2 linked regions of the Homo sapiens genome follow. The protein of the gene in region 2 interacts with the protein of the main gene of each other region in a pairwise test. Each region holds a gene or a part of one and is shown on either strand. Other genes may lie near its edges.

Region 1 (3,820 bases), on a different chromosome or scaffold from region 2:
AAACTCCTGGGCTCAAGTGAGCCTCCTACTTTGGCCTCCCAAAGTGCTGGGATTACAGGTATAAGCCACCCTGCCGGCCTTCTGATAGTTTTTAATTTACAGTTTACAGTGTATTTCACTTTAATACATTCCTTATCTAAGATTGCCTTTGAGGTTTAAAATGTTGGAAGTTAATACCTTACATTGTATGTGCCTCTGAAGGTATCTGTAAATGATGTCCCATGTTATTATTTTTGCATTCCCTTAGAGGCAACATTTTATATAACAGTTGTCCAAAGGCCTAAGGCAGAGGATGTAATACTGGGTACTCACGGTATATGACGACTTTCCCAAATGGGAAATGAGCATGGAGGCTCTGTTTTCAGGCAGTCAGTTCTATCCTCATTTTCCTTGAGTAGAAGCATCCCTAAAATTGGCCTGAAAATGTGTCCTTGGGTCAGGGTGTAATGTGGGCTCTTTTCCAGTCTCCTTTCTTCCAATGACCTCTTCCCTACTTTACAAAAGAAAGGCATAATTCTTCCTCATGCTAAATCTTAGTAAGGTGCAATACCCGGTTATGCAAAAACCTCCAGGACACCAAAGAAAGGCACAATTGACTGGTGAATAAGAATGGGGTAACACATCCTTTCACAAGTCAGGTGGTTTTCAGTTGCTTGCTTTCAACAAGTTGAAAGAGAACCTAATCAGAGTTGTCAGCTGACAGATCATTAAAAGTATTTTTTCTTTGTTAGATCTTTATGCGATTTTTGGGCATATAATGCGAAAGGCATTCAAAGAATTGTGTGGCATTACTATAACAAAACTCCATTCATTCTCATCTGCTTTTTTTATGCGAACAAGTTTTCTCAACACTTATATCCATGGAATTGAAAACTTGGAATAGAACTGATGCTGAACTATTTCTCAAAAAAATCCATCCACTGAAGGTCATAATGTATATTAGAAAAAAGTCCACCCAAGTTCATTTCTGCAAGATGCATTGCCAATAAAATTTTGCTTTTGTGTTTAGTACTTACAAACATTTGAAATAGATTTGTTTTGATCGGTTGAAATAAGAGCTTTATGATCACAGAAAATATAAAAAACAACCCAGATACTTCAATTTATGTTCACATTTTTATTACAAGTAAGACGATCAAAATAGTTCAAATATAAAATATATTACTAGGATAAAATTCTAGAGGAGATATGCAACGTCAATATGAGTTCCAGAAAACAATATTTGGAAATTGTATTTTCCAAACTGTATTTTAAAAAAATGGATATTAGTGGGTGTTAAATCCCTATGGTATTTAGAATCCATTGGCTATACAGTATTTAAACAATGCGACAGATGAAATATTTATAAGCCGGAAAAATGTAGCTGTCATTCTAAACTGTATAAGAACATACACAGCTTTACGAAATTGTTTTAGAAGGCTCATGAAGTAAAAAGTTTGAGGACCCTGAACCAAGATGTTTGCTCTGGGTTCAGGATGTCAACATCTCCAGGGGTATTCAAACATAGGGTGTATTAAAACCTGTCGCCCTGTGTTGCGCATAAAAATTTAGTACCTTACACCGTAGTGTTTTAATTTTTGCCCATTTTAAACCGCTCTCTTCGTAGACTGTAGGCTCGTTCTATTCCTGGCTCAGCTCCTGTACAGAGGGGACACTCCTCAAACACCCCCGGAATGAATGAGTTTATCGTGAGAACTCGGAAGGCTGCTAAAATCCCCGGCCAGCGTTGGAGTTTTCAGTCCGCGTGTCCCTGGGCTTCGAAGCCCGGCAGGGCGTGGGAAGGCCCCGAGGAAACGCTGAGCACTTGCAGGCGCCGGGGCGGGGGCGGGGGCGGGCACTGGGCAGCGGGGCGGGCGCCGGGCGGGGGCGGGGGCGCAGAACCCGCAGCCGGGGGAGGTGCTGCCTCGTGCCGCCGCGCAGGCGCGCAGCAGTCTCCGTGTGAGTGCGCGTAGTCGCGCGCCTGTCCCCGCGCGGGCTCCGTAGCGCGTGTGCAGGCTGACGCAGCTCGCGGGCCCTCCTCCTGCTCTGCAGCGGCGTCGGCGGAGTTTTGGGCGTTTGGGAGGGGGGCGAGGGAGAGAGAGTCGAGAGAGGGAGGCGGCGGTGGGGAGGAGGAGGAGGAGGAGGAGCAGGCGCCGCCATGGCCGCCGCTATCACCGACATGGCCGACCTGGAGGAGCTCTCCCGCCTGAGCCCTCTGCCCCCCGGCAGCCCGGGTTCGGCGGCGCGGGGCCGGGCTGAGCCCCCCGAGGAGGAGGAGGAAGAGGAGGAGGAGGAAGAGGAGGCGGAGGCCGAGGCGGTGGCGGCGCTGCTGCTGAACGGCGGCAGCGGTGGGGGCGGCGGAGGCGGCGGCGGAGGAGTGGGGGGCGGCGAGGCAGAGACGATGTCGGAGCCGAGCCCCGAGAGCGCCAGCCAGGCCGGGGAGGACGAAGACGAGGAGGAGGACGACGAGGAGGAGGAAGATGAGAGCAGCAGCAGCGGCGGGGGTGAGGAGGAGAGTAGCGCCGAGAGCCTGGTGGGCAGCAGCGGCGGGAGCAGCAGCGACGAGACCCGCTCGTTGAGCCCCGGCGCCGCCAGCAGCAGCAGCGGGGATGGGGACGGCAAGGAGGGCCTGGAGGAGCCCAAGGGACCGCGGGGCAGCCAGGGCGGCGGCGGGGGCGGCAGCAGTAGCAGCAGCGTAGTCTCCAGCGGCGGCGACGAGGGCTACGGGACTGGGGGAGGCGGAAGCAGCGCGACCTCCGGGGGCCGGCGGGGCAGCTTGGAGATGTCGTCGGATGGGGAACCCCTGAGCCGCATGGACTCGGAGGACAGGTCAGTGCTCTGAAGCGTTTCCCCTTCCCTTCCTCCTCTTGAACTCCCGGGCCCCTCAGAGGGGGACCAAGGCGACGTTTTGCCGCGATCCCCCTGCTCCCCGAATCCTCGGCCCCTCCCCCAGACTCTCAACTCGGAAATCTCTCGCCGTCGCCGCCGCGCCCCTCTCGCAGCGCATCGCGGCTTCCAACTCTCAAACCGTTCCCCCCCAACTCTCCTTTCCCCGCCCTCTTTCCCCTCGGCGCTTCGCTCCTCACGGACCTCAGGACGGCTCTAACTCGGAAACAGTCCCCAAACGGGCCCAGATCCTCTGGCGGAGCAGAAGAGGGCCTTGATGTACACACGTCGGTACTCAAGGTTAGCTTCTTCCAACCGTGTTCGGGAACACTTGTCAGAACTACAATTGACAAGTGTTTCCAATATGGCTGGTCTCGCCTGGATTTAACAGAACTTCCTTGTCCATGGGAGAGACCCCAGCTATCACTTTTCTCTACTTAAACAAAAAAAGGACTGTTCTTTTATATTAAATCATTGCCTCCCAAATCCCTCATTTGTAGTCAGTCATGTGGTCTCCAACGTGATTTTAACAATCTTTTCTATTTGTTTTGGGAGCATATCTGGGAAAAAGTTTTAAACACGTATAAATGGTTGTGGAAAAGAATAGTGAATTGATGGCCTTTTAAGATAACTTTGCGGAATCAGAGAGTTGGAATCGTAACAAAATACAGTCTTGAAGGTACAACGTAGTTTGCGGCTTTATAGTAATGTTTCAACATGAGAGTCATGATTTTAAATGATAATATTTAAAGTCATGCATTGGAGAGGTCTCGGAAGGAATGAGTATTATTTTTCTTACTAAAGCTTGTTAGAAGTAACTGGAGAGTGACAAAAATGCGCATTTTTTCAGAACATTTAAAAAGTGTGATAGTGTATGTTTCAATTGTCTTATCATTACTTTTGATCTGTTTGGGTTAGTTGGTTTTTAATGTACTTTTAAAAAAACGAGAATCAC
Region 2 (3,600 bases):
TGAGGTCAGAGTGACAGCTGTGCCATGCAAATTGTTTACAAAGCACTCACACCTGTTTCTCCTTTTAATCTTTTGTTTCTGAGATGGAGTCTGGCTCTGTCACCCAGGCTGGCATGCAATGGCGCGATCTCGGTTCACTGCAATCTCCGCCACCCGGGTCCAAGCGATTCTCCTGCCTCAGTCTCCTGAGTAGCTGGGATTACAGGTGCATACCACCATGCCTGGCTAATTTTTGCATTTTTAGTAGAGACGGGGTTTCACCATGTTGGCCAGGCTGGTCCAGATATATGATCTAGATCTTATACCAACTCCTGATCTCATGATCCACACTCCTCAGCCTCCCAAAGTGCTGGGATTACAGGCGTGAGCCACCGCGCCCAGCCTCTCCTTTTAATCTTGACTTTCACAAATACCTGGTGGCAGGTGTCATTTCCCCATTCTACACGTACCTGAGGCTCAGAGTGAGACAGCGACTCACCCAAGATCTCCCAGCTACAAAATGGCAGAGCCTGGGCCTGAGCTAGCATGGTCATGGGCTGGAAGAGCCACAATCCATGTTAAGGCACCTGGGTTTGGAGACTGCTGCCTTTTTTTTTTTTGAAACGGAGTCTCTCTCTGTCGCCCAGGCTGGAGTGCAATGGCCTGATCTCGGCTCACTACAACCTCCCTCTCCTATTTTCAAGCGATTCTCCTGCCTCAGGCTCCCAAATAGCTGGAATTACAGGTGTGCGCCACCGCACCTGGCCTTAGACTGCTGCTTTTTGAAACCAAAATTCTGGCCTGGAAACAGAGCTTGGTTTTCCCAGCCCCAGCCCTGCCGCTATGATACCAGAGGAAGAGGCTTCCCAGGGCCTCCGTTTCCTTGCCTGCACAATGTGGCTGGCAAGATTTGGTCTTCTCTCACAGGGTGGTGGTGAGCTTTCAAATCCTGTGAAAGTGATCTCACAGGAGAGCAGTGGACACGTGGGAAGGCTGTTATTGTCACGGCATTCTGCACATCTGTCCGGACTCAATTAGCCACCTAAGGAGAGAGTAGGGCGGGGCTTCCACCGGCCGTGGGATATGTGGATAATCATCCTTCTGTATCTTTCTTCCATGGCTCCTGGGGCAGCTGGGGAAGCAAGCTGGATGGGCCTGGCCCCATGCTGCCGGATGAGGTGGATGCCTGGCTGTGGCTCTGGGAGAGCCAACCTCCCCCAGGGAACCCACTTTACACAATAGCAGTGGCAGCAGAGGCTGGCGAGGAGACAAGATTCGGACTCTGGGGAGCACTGATAGCATTTCCCGAGCCTCAGGTACATGCGGACCGTGACCCTCCCTGGGACCCCAGGGGGGCTGCTCCTCAGGACTAAGGAAGGAGGAGGGGGTGTGAGAAACCTTTCACCATATACCATAGAAAGCATTTACCTCAATGGCCTTGGTTTACATATGGGGAAACTGAGGCACATAAAGGGAAGGGAGCATGTCCAGTCTGTCCTTAATAGCAAGACCCACTGAATACACCTCTCCTGGCTCTCTGTTTAGTGTTTGGACGTTCAAAGATCCCTAGACTAGGCGGCGGGAGTTTCAGGGCCACGATCCAGATCTTACACCAACTGTGTGTGGCCCCGCACAAAATCACTCCCCGCTCTTTGGCACTTAAGTTGGCGAAACTGGGATGGGCTGGGACCTCAAAGGGCCATTCTAGTAGGGGAGTCACAGGCCCAGGTGGTGAAGGGGTGAAAGGGCATGATGTCTTGGGGTTTATAGTCCACTGAGCCTCGCCGGAGGTAACCCCGGCTCAGGGATGCTTTCGTTGCCATGGCAACCGCCGGGCCGGCGCGGGCCCCTGAGTGCAGCTGAGGAAGCTGGGACAAACCCTGCCCTTCCCAAGATGGCGGCGGCGGCAGGGCAAAGGGCGGGGTTAGACGCTGTCAGCCTGTCCAGACCGTTCCTCTGTTTTCGCTTGTTCCTACTAACAGCGAGCTTCCGCCAATACTTGTTCTCGTTCTTGGTTCCGAGCGTCCCGGGAGCCGGGAAGGGAAGGATTGTCTGCAGGGATTGGAGCAAATATCCAGTGGGGGGAAAGCCGGGACTTCCGCGTCTTGCCGGAAGTGACGTGACAATCGCGGCCACCGCCAGGTGGAACGGCAGGTGGGTTCAGGTACCAGCCTGGCCGGGACCCGGCTGTGGGACCAACGCTTCCGGTGAGCGACAGAGGCAGCTCCCCAGGGCCTGGAGACCCGTGGGGCGGACTCTGGGATCTGAGCCTATCGCCCTGGCCTGGAGCCCCCCTTTGTACCTAGTAAGAATCACCTACCCAGCCCCCCACCCGGAGACTGTCCCATCCCACTCCAGAGGGAAGAGGAGGGCACTGCTGTCCCGTATGAGGTGGTGGAGGGAGGGGTGGCGTTGGCATTTAGGCACTTGGGTTCCTTAAATCCTATGCTCCTTTCTCTCCCGGATCCAGTTCCCCATTCCCCTACCGAGCTGGGCAGTTAGCCAGCCCACTCCAACTCTCGGAACCATGTTTGCAGACTTGGATTATGACATCGAAGAGGATAAACTGTGAGTATTTTATTCCCCCAAGTTCCAGCAGTATAGGAGCCCCAAGTTCCTCATTTCCCTGGACTTCCCAGTCCCACAGACCCTTGCTTCTCAGCGGTGGATCAGTTGTTGTACTGAAGCAGCAATGGACCCTGCTCTCCCAGGAGCTCACTATTTGTAGGGGGCTGTGGACAGTTAAAGGGATAATCACAGCTCAGTGCCATAAGGGCACTATTAGCATGACTTGGTGACAAGAAGAGCAAAGCAGATGGAGCAGTGCTTCTGCTGGGATGGTCAAGGAAAGCTTCATGGAGGACGTAGCAATTGAACCAGGTTTTGAAGGTTGAATAGGAATATTGTAGACACCCTTCCTTCCCAACATAGGTTGTTAGTAGGACAGATTTTCCCATTAGAATATATCCTCTTTCAGATCAAGGAGTGGGTGCAATGCCTTTCTCTATGCTCAGCACTTAGTAAGGGACTTGACGTCAGTAGGTTGTTAGCGAATGTTTTTTGAATGAATAAGTGAATCAGCGTGAGTACTTATCATAAAACACCAGTCAATGCTAATTTATAGTGGAAACCGAGAGGTAATCGAGCAGTTGAGAGGTGGGAGGTGGACAGTTTAATAGAGGAAGACTCCCTGGAGTAGGTGGCCATCATACTACATAGATGCCTGATAAGGTGACAAGGACAGAACCTGGCTCAAATCTCAGAGATCGAATAAATGAAAGGGAAGGGGGACCTATTTTTATGGAGTGCCTGCTATGGACTGGGTTGCTGTTAGTGCCCTCCATGCATGGTTAGAAGAACTCTGATAAGGGTGCTCATCCACATTTTATGGATGAGGAAATTGAGATGCACAGAGGCTGACTTACCCAAGTCCCATAGCTGGCCAGGCACGGTGGCTCACGCCTGTAATCCCAGCACTTTGGGAGGCTGAGGCAGGCGGATCAACTGAGGTCAGGAGTTCAAGACCAGCCTGGCCAACATGGTGAAACCCCGTCTCTACTAAAAATACAAAAAAATCAGCCAGGCGTGGTGGCAGGCACCTGTAGTCCCAGCTACTTGGGC

The links. Proteins that work in one complex are often made in the same cells at the same time.
Region 1: the proteins of PICK1 (region 2) and AEBP2 interact in binary tests that used the Homo sapiens proteins (3 or more experiments, as listed by UniProt).

Annotation. Positions count from the first base shown.
Region 1 is NC_000012.12:19,437,563-19,441,382, forward strand, and holds the start of AEBP2 (zinc finger protein AEBP2), read left to right. Parts: upstream 1-1,929; 5' UTR 1,930-2,137; coding exon 2,138-2,808; intron 2,809-3,036; exon of another isoform or gene 3,037-3,142; coding exon of another isoform or gene 3,143-3,165; intron 3,166-3,820. UniProt on the Homo sapiens protein: Acts as an accessory subunit for the core Polycomb repressive complex 2 (PRC2), which mediates histone H3K27 (H3K27me3) trimethylation on chromatin leading to transcriptional repression of the affected target gene.
Region 2 is NC_000022.11:38,055,304-38,058,903, forward strand, and holds the start of PICK1 (PRKCA-binding protein), read left to right. Parts: upstream 1-2,100; 5' UTR 2,101-2,284; intron 2,285-2,449; 5' UTR 2,450-2,506; coding exon 2,507-2,547; intron 2,548-3,600. UniProt on the Homo sapiens protein: Probable adapter protein that bind to and organize the subcellular localization of a variety of membrane proteins containing some PDZ recognition sequence.